Linked DNA regions of Homo sapiens. The protein of the gene in region 1 interacts with the protein of each later gene in a pairwise test. Each region holds a gene or a part of one and is shown in the gene's direction. Other genes may lie near its edges. The genes, in order: JPH1 and HTATIP2.

The links.
Region 2: the proteins of JPH1 (region 1) and HTATIP2 interact in binary tests that used the Homo sapiens proteins (3 or more experiments, as listed by UniProt).

What each region holds. Positions count from the first base shown.
Region 1 is NC_000008.11:74,319,972-74,323,891, reverse strand, and holds the start of JPH1 (junctophilin-1), read left to right. Parts: upstream 1-2,351; 5' UTR 2,352-2,604; coding exon 2,605-2,983; intron 2,984-3,920. UniProt on the Homo sapiens protein: Junctophilins contribute to the formation of junctional membrane complexes (JMCs) which link the plasma membrane with the endoplasmic or sarcoplasmic reticulum in excitable cells.
Region 2 is NC_000011.10:20,380,489-20,384,377, forward strand, and holds the end of HTATIP2 (protein HTATIP2), read left to right. Parts: intron 1-1,689; coding exon 1,690-1,751; intron 1,752-2,491; coding exon 2,492-2,717; 3' UTR 2,718-3,294; downstream 3,295-3,889. UniProt on the Homo sapiens protein: Represses translation by preventing reactivation of elongation factor eEF1A. May also inhibit nuclear import by competing with nuclear import substrates for binding to a subset of nuclear transport receptors.

The sequences.
Region 1 (3,920 bases):
AAGAAAGTCAACATCAGAGCTAGGCTAGGATTAAGATTAGTTAAAATTTAATCATACATACCTAGTGGTAAAGTCTCACTTTTAATTAAGGTTCTTTGCAAGGCATCTATTAGGGATAGCCACAGGAAAAGAGTAAGCAATAAATGGCCATGTCTTTTTTCCTCCCCAAATCTTCATATTCAATCCAGATGTGTGTGCACCTCCCACCACAAATAGACTAGATATCCATTACAGAAGCCAGAAACTTGGTTTGTGCTCTGTGTTCCAGAAAATCCCTCATTTGCATGACAACTAATTAGGAAGAGTAATAAATAAAGAGATAAAGGTTTCCAAAATTTATCCCCTTAAAGAACATATATGGGTCCTAACACACTGGGTGGATCCAAAAAAAAAAAAAAGGCAAAGGGACAAAGACTACTCTATGAGGAAGTCTAGTTTAGAAAGAGACTCCCCCATTCAAAATATTGGCTTGAGCAACCACACTTTTTCTCATATCATACAGAACCTCAAAATATATGGGAATGCATCTTTCTACATTAGCTCCTGATTCTGGTGTATCCCATAACAGGGAAATGGAATTATGGCTCAGCCGCAAAGCCCTGGCCCTCATCTTCCCAGCGGCCTAAATCAATCCCCAGTCCAGGACAAGATGCTTCGAGAGATGCATAATTATTTCAGGCCACTAGGGTAAGCACTATTCCTGGCAACTCTGCGGGCAGTGCCATGGATGAGGGCTTCTAATTCTCTTTGGTGATTTGGTTCTGCATAAACTGAGATTTTTCTTTCAGTCTTTCAGCCAGATAAGTAGGAAAGGTCGGCTCTCGTCCTGAGAGAGAGGCAATCAAGGTCAATTTCAGTTCCTTTTCTGTGCAGTTTAGTCTACTTTTTCCCAGGCTGTCTTCCTGACACCTGTCCTTATATCTATATCTGATTATCAAATACTTAGTGAGAGAACCTTTGGCAGCTTCTGATGCTCGCATAGTCACCCAAAGGCCTCTCAGCCTAAGAAATAGCAGGAATACACTCCAAATCAGTTTCCTTGAGAGGCCAAACTAAGACCCTAGGCTGTGAAAGTGGGAGAAGTTTCTCCCGTGGGTATTTTGAGGGTGAGGTGGAGAATAATGCTTTCTCTCACCAGAGGCAATGCTGATCCAACTTGCCTATTACCAAATCTCTAATTTTTGGTTTGGCACTGCAGCCACAATATACTCAGTTATTACCGAATATAGAAAGAGAAAGGCAAATCTTGTTAGTCCCATTCAGAAGATGGTGAAATGGAGGTTTAAAAGTTTAGAAGAGTTGCCTAAAGTGAATTCGACAAAGCAGTGTTGTAGCTAGAAAGTAGACCAGCTGACATCTGTCCCTGGTTTTGTAGGTCACAGTTTCTTTGCAAGTTTAGAGCAGTGCTTTACTTACCATATTCCTCCTTGCAAACCTCTATTTACTTTCTTAAACAGTGGATACCAGTGGAGAGGTGTGCATTCCAGACACTTATACAATGTACACAGACCGAGCCGTCTACCTGTTGGGCACACAGCTCCAGGCTCAAGAATCTCTAAGGCTGTTAAGAAGCACAAACGAGGCACGAGAGGGGGCAGGCTCTAATGTAAAAGGAATATCCTGTACCACTGCAAAGGCCGATTGAAAACATCCTCTTCATCACTATTAATAAAAAACTAACCAATATATTCTGTGCTTTTTCAAACTGTACTGCTCACCCTCAGTGTCTTCATTAAATAAATGCAAACACGTGTGCTTTGAAACGGGTAGGTGTAAAAGAACACTCTGCACAATTATATCTAGGCTGCCGCAGATTTACATCACATGCATACATATATCTAGGCGATATTAATTCACGATGACAGCTGAGCATGACAAATGCAACAGTACACAAGTTGGAATGCGAAAACAATGCAACTACAAACCCCATGCAGACAAACACGCATACAATGAGTTTTCCCTCAACACACACGTGGCCGCACTCACAGGAGCTTAACCACTTTGAAAAACCCCAAACACAAACACCGGGGGCTCCGGCGCCCGCGAGCGGCCCCCACACAGGCAGCCGCGCCTTCATCTCCAGGCAGGGATTCTCGTGCGTCCCCGGGTACACTCGCCCTCCCACCGGCATCCCACTGCGCGAACACATGCGCGCCAGCCGGTCCCCGCGCGCGCCCGCCTGCCGAGGAAGCGGCGGCTCCCGGGGCTGGGGGCAGGGCCCGGTGGGGCGGGAGCGCCGCGGGGCCGGGCCTCGGCGCCCGGGGAGGGGACGAGGGGCGGGCGCGGGGCGGTGCCCGGCTCACGTGGGCGGGCGGGAGCAGCTGAAGGTCCGCTCGGGAACCTGGGCTGTCCTCTCGCGCGCGGCGCTGGCCCAGGCGGCGGCGGCGAAGGAGGAGGAGGAGGAGGAGGAAGGCGGCGGTGGCGGCGGCAAAAGAGGAGGGAGGACGGGGGCGGCGTCGGACTGGAGCCGAGCGGCAGCGCGAGCTGCCCAGGGCGCTGTCGTGAGCTCGCCCGCCGGGCCCCCACCCCCGAGCTACACCCTGCCGTGCCCAGCACTGCCCGCGTCCGTGCCCCTGCGGGGAGCGCGCCGGGGCTGCCCCCCGAATGACGGGCGGAAGGTTCGACTTCGACGATGGCGGCACCTACTGCGGCGGCTGGGAGGAGGGCAAGGCGCACGGGCATGGCATCTGCACGGGGCCCAAGGGCCAGGGCGAGTACTCGGGCTCCTGGTCGCACGGCTTCGAGGTGGTCGGAGGCTACACCTGGCCCAGCGGCAACACCTACCAGGGCTACTGGGCGCAGGGCAAGCGGCACGGGCTGGGGGTGGAGACGAAGGGCAAGTGGATGTACCGGGGGGAGTGGTCACATGGTTTCAAGGGGCGCTACGGGGTCCGGCAGAGCCTGTGCACCCCCGCTCGCTACGAGGGTACCTGGAGTAACGGGCTGCAAGACGGGTACGGCGTGGAGACCTACGGGGACGGAGGTGAGCGGCGTAACGGGCGGCTCGGCTGCTCCGCGAGCTGGTGCGGTGGGCTCTGCCCCGGCTGCGGGGAAGCGGGGAGGACGCCGGGCGCACGTGTCCGGAAACCCGCCAAAACACCTGGGGGCGCCTCCCACCCCCGCGCCCGCGCCCGCCTTTCCCAGAGAGGGCGCTGGGACCGGACTGGGGCGCGAGGGCTGGATCTGACCCCGTTCTTGGAGCGGGCCGTGTATCCACACTCAGGGGAGCTAGGCGTGAATGTACCTGGCCGGCGCCAGCGCTGCGCTGCCACCGGGAGGGAGCGCCGCCCGGGAGGGTTGGGCTGGAGAGAGGACGCTGTCACTTGAGCCCGTCACATTACGTTCCTGATCCCTCCCTCTCCCGGCCGGGTTTGAAATCGCCACTCCCGTGGAGTTAGAGCGAACACCCTGAGCGGGTGAGGTTGGCGGTCCGTGCTGACCGCTCCCGGGATTGGTTTCACGTGGAGTCGTATTTCGCTTCTGGTCCTCCAGTAGCCTAAAGATAGAAGCCAGAACCCCGTAACTAGGATGTTGGGGAATTGTACCTTATTTGGGGGTGCATTTGGAAACGTCCTAGTTATGGGAGCAGAAAGGCCACCTGATGCAGGTGGAGTTCAGAGTGTGTGAGTTCCTAGTTTTCATTCCGTTTCTTAAAGTATTGGTCTTAAAAGAGTAGCAGTCTTTGCTGACCTGGAGATCTTGGACAAATTACTAGGAAGATATTTTAGAAATGGGTAATGAAGTCTACATTTTAAAGAATACAATTAGCAGGTGTGTTCCTATAGCTGCTAAGTTAGCAGCTACTACTCCTGAGAATGGCAATACTGAAACAATAATTTGCATTATGTGTGACCTAAGCCAGTATTCCTGGCTGTGAACAAAGATCACCTTATTTTAATATTTAACAATATTTGCCAAAG
Region 2 (3,889 bases), on another chromosome or scaffold:
GGTGAAACCCCGTCTCTACTAAAAATACAAAAAATTAGCCGGGCGTGATGGCAGGTGCCTGTAGTCCCAGCTGCTCGGGAGGCTGAGGCAGGAGAACGGCATGAACCCGGGAGGCGGAGCTTGCAGTGAGCTGAGATTGCGCCACTGCACTCCAGCCTGGGCGACAGAGTGAGACTCCATCTCAAAAAAAAAAAAAAAAAAAAGCTAAGAAATGTGTGTACACATAAAATCTTGTGTATGACTGTTCATAGCAGCATTATTTATAATGGCCAAAGAGTGGGAACAACCTAGATAGCCATCGACTGATGAATAGATGAATAAAATGTGATATATTCATGCAATAGAATATTATTCAGCTATAAAAAGAAATGATACATACTACAACATGGGTGAACCTTGAAAATATTATGCTAAGTGTGAGGAGACAGTCACAAAAGACCACGAATTATATGATTTCATTTATATGAAATGTCCAGAATAGGCAAATCTATAGAGATAGAAGGTACATTAGTGGTTGACTAGGTCCCCAGAGGGTAGGGTACGAGGAGTGACTGCTAATGATATGGGATTTCTTTTCAGGGTGATGAAATATTTTAAAACTTAGATCGTGATGAAGGTTACAGAGTTCTGTGTATATACTAAAAACCACCTATTAAAAAAAAAAGAATGGCCAAGCGCGGTGGCTCTCGCCTGTAATCCCAGCACTTTGGGAGGCTGAGGCGGGTGGATCACTTGAGGTCAGGAGTTCGAGACCAGCCTGGTCAACATGGTGACAACCCCGTCACTACTAAAAATACAAAAATTAGCCAGGCATAATGGCGGATGCCTGTAATCCCAGCTACTTGGGAGGCCGAGGCAGGAGAATTGCTTGAACCTGGGAGGTGGAAGTTGCAGTGAGCCAAGATCATGCCCTTGCACTTCAGCCTAGGTGACATGGTGAGACTCTATCACACACAAAAAATACATAAATAAATAAATAATTAAAATTAAAAAATTTTTAAAAAGAAAAAGATATTTAAAAATAGCTACTTAAATGTCTGTGATGAGACAGGTTAAGTGCCAATTGAGTGGTACACACAGGCCAAGAAGGAGGCGTGCATGACCGTGTGGTAGTTCACAGGCCTTTGGAAGTGCCTGTGGGCTGAGCTCCTCAGGCATTTTGTTTCCAGAGATGCCTGCCATGAAAATGCATGCTTTATTTAACAAATTAGATTTAAAGCATCATCTAGATGTAATCTGTCTTAAAATTTTGTGAGGTTTAAGAAGTGAGTAATATAGTGGGTCTATGGTTTTCTGACCCACTGGAACTACCTATAAACCAAAAAAACGTTAGTGTCTGCTAGCATGCAACATGAATTCTGGACTAAATAGAGGATATTCTTTTATGATTGTACTAACGTATGACTTACCCTCTCTGAATCTGTTTTAATATCAATAAAGTGAGAGGACTGACTATGCAGCCATTCACTCATTTAGTGGATCTTTTAAATGAAAGACTACACATCAGGATTAAATGATCTCTTCCTTAATTTCCCAGACTCCTTGGAACCTAAAATTCTAGATAAGGATATTTTGAGTATTGAGATCTGCAAAAGCAGATTATCTCAAAACCACAAATTATTCTCTCTTAAACTTCACACAGGTGAGCTGGTCGCGATTAAATACTGAAAATGTGTTTTTTCTTAATAGGGAGAAGTAGAAGCCAAGGTTGAAGAATTAAAATTTGATCGTTACTCTGTATTTAGGCCTGGGTAAGTATAATATTTATACTGAATGAGAGTATGCCACTGATGGTTAATCCCTAGATACTAATTTTTCATTTGGAAAGGCTGACAGCTGAAATATCTAAGATATGAAAGACATTGGCTAGAGGTAGATTGCTTCTCTGAAGGACACACCTTTTTGCTTAGAAAGAAAGGGTAGATGGTGGGGCCTGCTTCAGAATAGTCTGGAACTTCCTGGACAGCATTTGCTGCCTTCTTAAATCCTCTTCATGTGCCAAATAAAACCTTACGTCTACTGTATTAGTCTGCTTGGGTTGCCATAACAGAATACCACACAGATTGGGTGTCTTAAACAACAGAAATTTTTTTTCACGCAGTCTGGAGATTGGAAGTCCAAGATCAAGGTGCCCTCAGGGTTGGTGTCCGGTGAGGCCTCTTTTCCTGGCTGGCAGACAGACCACCTTCTGGCAGTGTCCTCACATGGCCTTTCTTCTTAGTGTATGCAGACAGAGAGAGACCTCTGATGTCTCTTCCTCTTATGAGGACCCCAGTCCCATCACACTAGTCCTATTCCATCCTTAAGACCTCATTAAACTTAATTACTTCCCTTAATGCCTTATCTTCAAATATAGACACCTTGGGGATTAGGGCTTCAACATTAGAATATTGAGGGGATACAGTTTTGTCCGTAATGCCCACTGTGGTCTCAGTGCAATTTACCACCTCTTCCTCTGCTTTTCTTTCTTTTTTTTTTTTTTTTATTTTAGAGTTCTGTTATGTGATAGGCAAGAATCTCGCCCAGGTGAATGGCTGGTTAGAAAGTTCTTTGGCTCCTTACCAGACTCTTGGGCCAGTGGGCATTCTGTGCCTGTGGTGACCGTGGTTAGAGCAATGCTGAACAATGTGGTGAGACCAAGAGACAAGCAGATGGAACTGCTGGAGAACAAGGCCATCCATGACCTGGGGAAAGCGCATGGCTCTCTCAAGCCATGACCACATTGGAGAAATGGTTTTTATTGTCAACCTTAACACCCATCACCAAATCGGTAATTTCAGGGTCTAAAAAAAGTCAGCATGTTTTAACTTTGTTGTTTTACTATCCTCAGGCATCCATTCCAATCAAGAAATGATGGTGCTCTGCATCAGTGGTTCAGAGCCTGGTTATACATATAGATCACTCAGGGAGCTTTGGAAAAATAAAGATTTGTCAGCCCTATCTCAAACTTGAATCAAAATTTCTGGGGTGTGGGCACAATAATCTGTAATTTTCTTTGTTTATACTTCCCCTGATGCCACTGGTTCCGATGCCACTGGCTGGGGGGCCTGCTTTGAAATGCTTGTCTGCAGAGTCACAGCAGCCATGAAAACCTTATGACCGTGCAAATGAGCTCTGCTCTAAAATTGTTGACATTCATGTCTCTGAGTTACAAAAGTGCTAATTCACTACATGTAATTGTGTAAGTAAACATTGTGCCTTTACTACTTCTTTATGTAATAGAAGTTATATACCTAAGCTTATATAATACATGGGGAGGATTAAATAAAGGAATAAAGATGAATGGACAACTCCTGGGTGCCTCTTAGATTGCTTGAAAATGCCCATGTAGTGTGATATGCAGCATTTCAGCCTATGGGGTGATATAATAGCAGCTAATATTTACCAAATGCTTGCTAAGTACCAGTCTTTACATGTGTTATCTGTGCTTTAACCCTCTTATAAACAATCCTTATAAAGTGATACTATCATGATCTTCATGTCTTAGATGGGGAAATGAGGCTCACTGTGGTTAAGTGCCTTGCTCAAGAGTCCAAATCTGAAGAACTGAAGCAAAGAAATGGCAGAGTCAGGATTCTAACCCAGGTCTGCCTGATCCCATAGATCCCATATATCGTGTTTTTAAGCACCCTGCAAAAGCATTCTGTTCCCGTATATTTCCAGGTAGTTCCAGTTGATTGTTACTACATGTTGTGGATGAACAAAATCGAAATATTTGGGTTTCTCCTTTGTTCTAGTGATTAATTACTAAATGTTCACATAGCCAGTAAAATTCTATGCCACCAAACTTTAAAGTGCTCATGCTGCTGCACTTTAAAAATTAAGGCAAAGGAAGATGCAGAAGGAAGGGTCAAAGCCAAGAGGAACATACATTGCTAATTTCCATCAT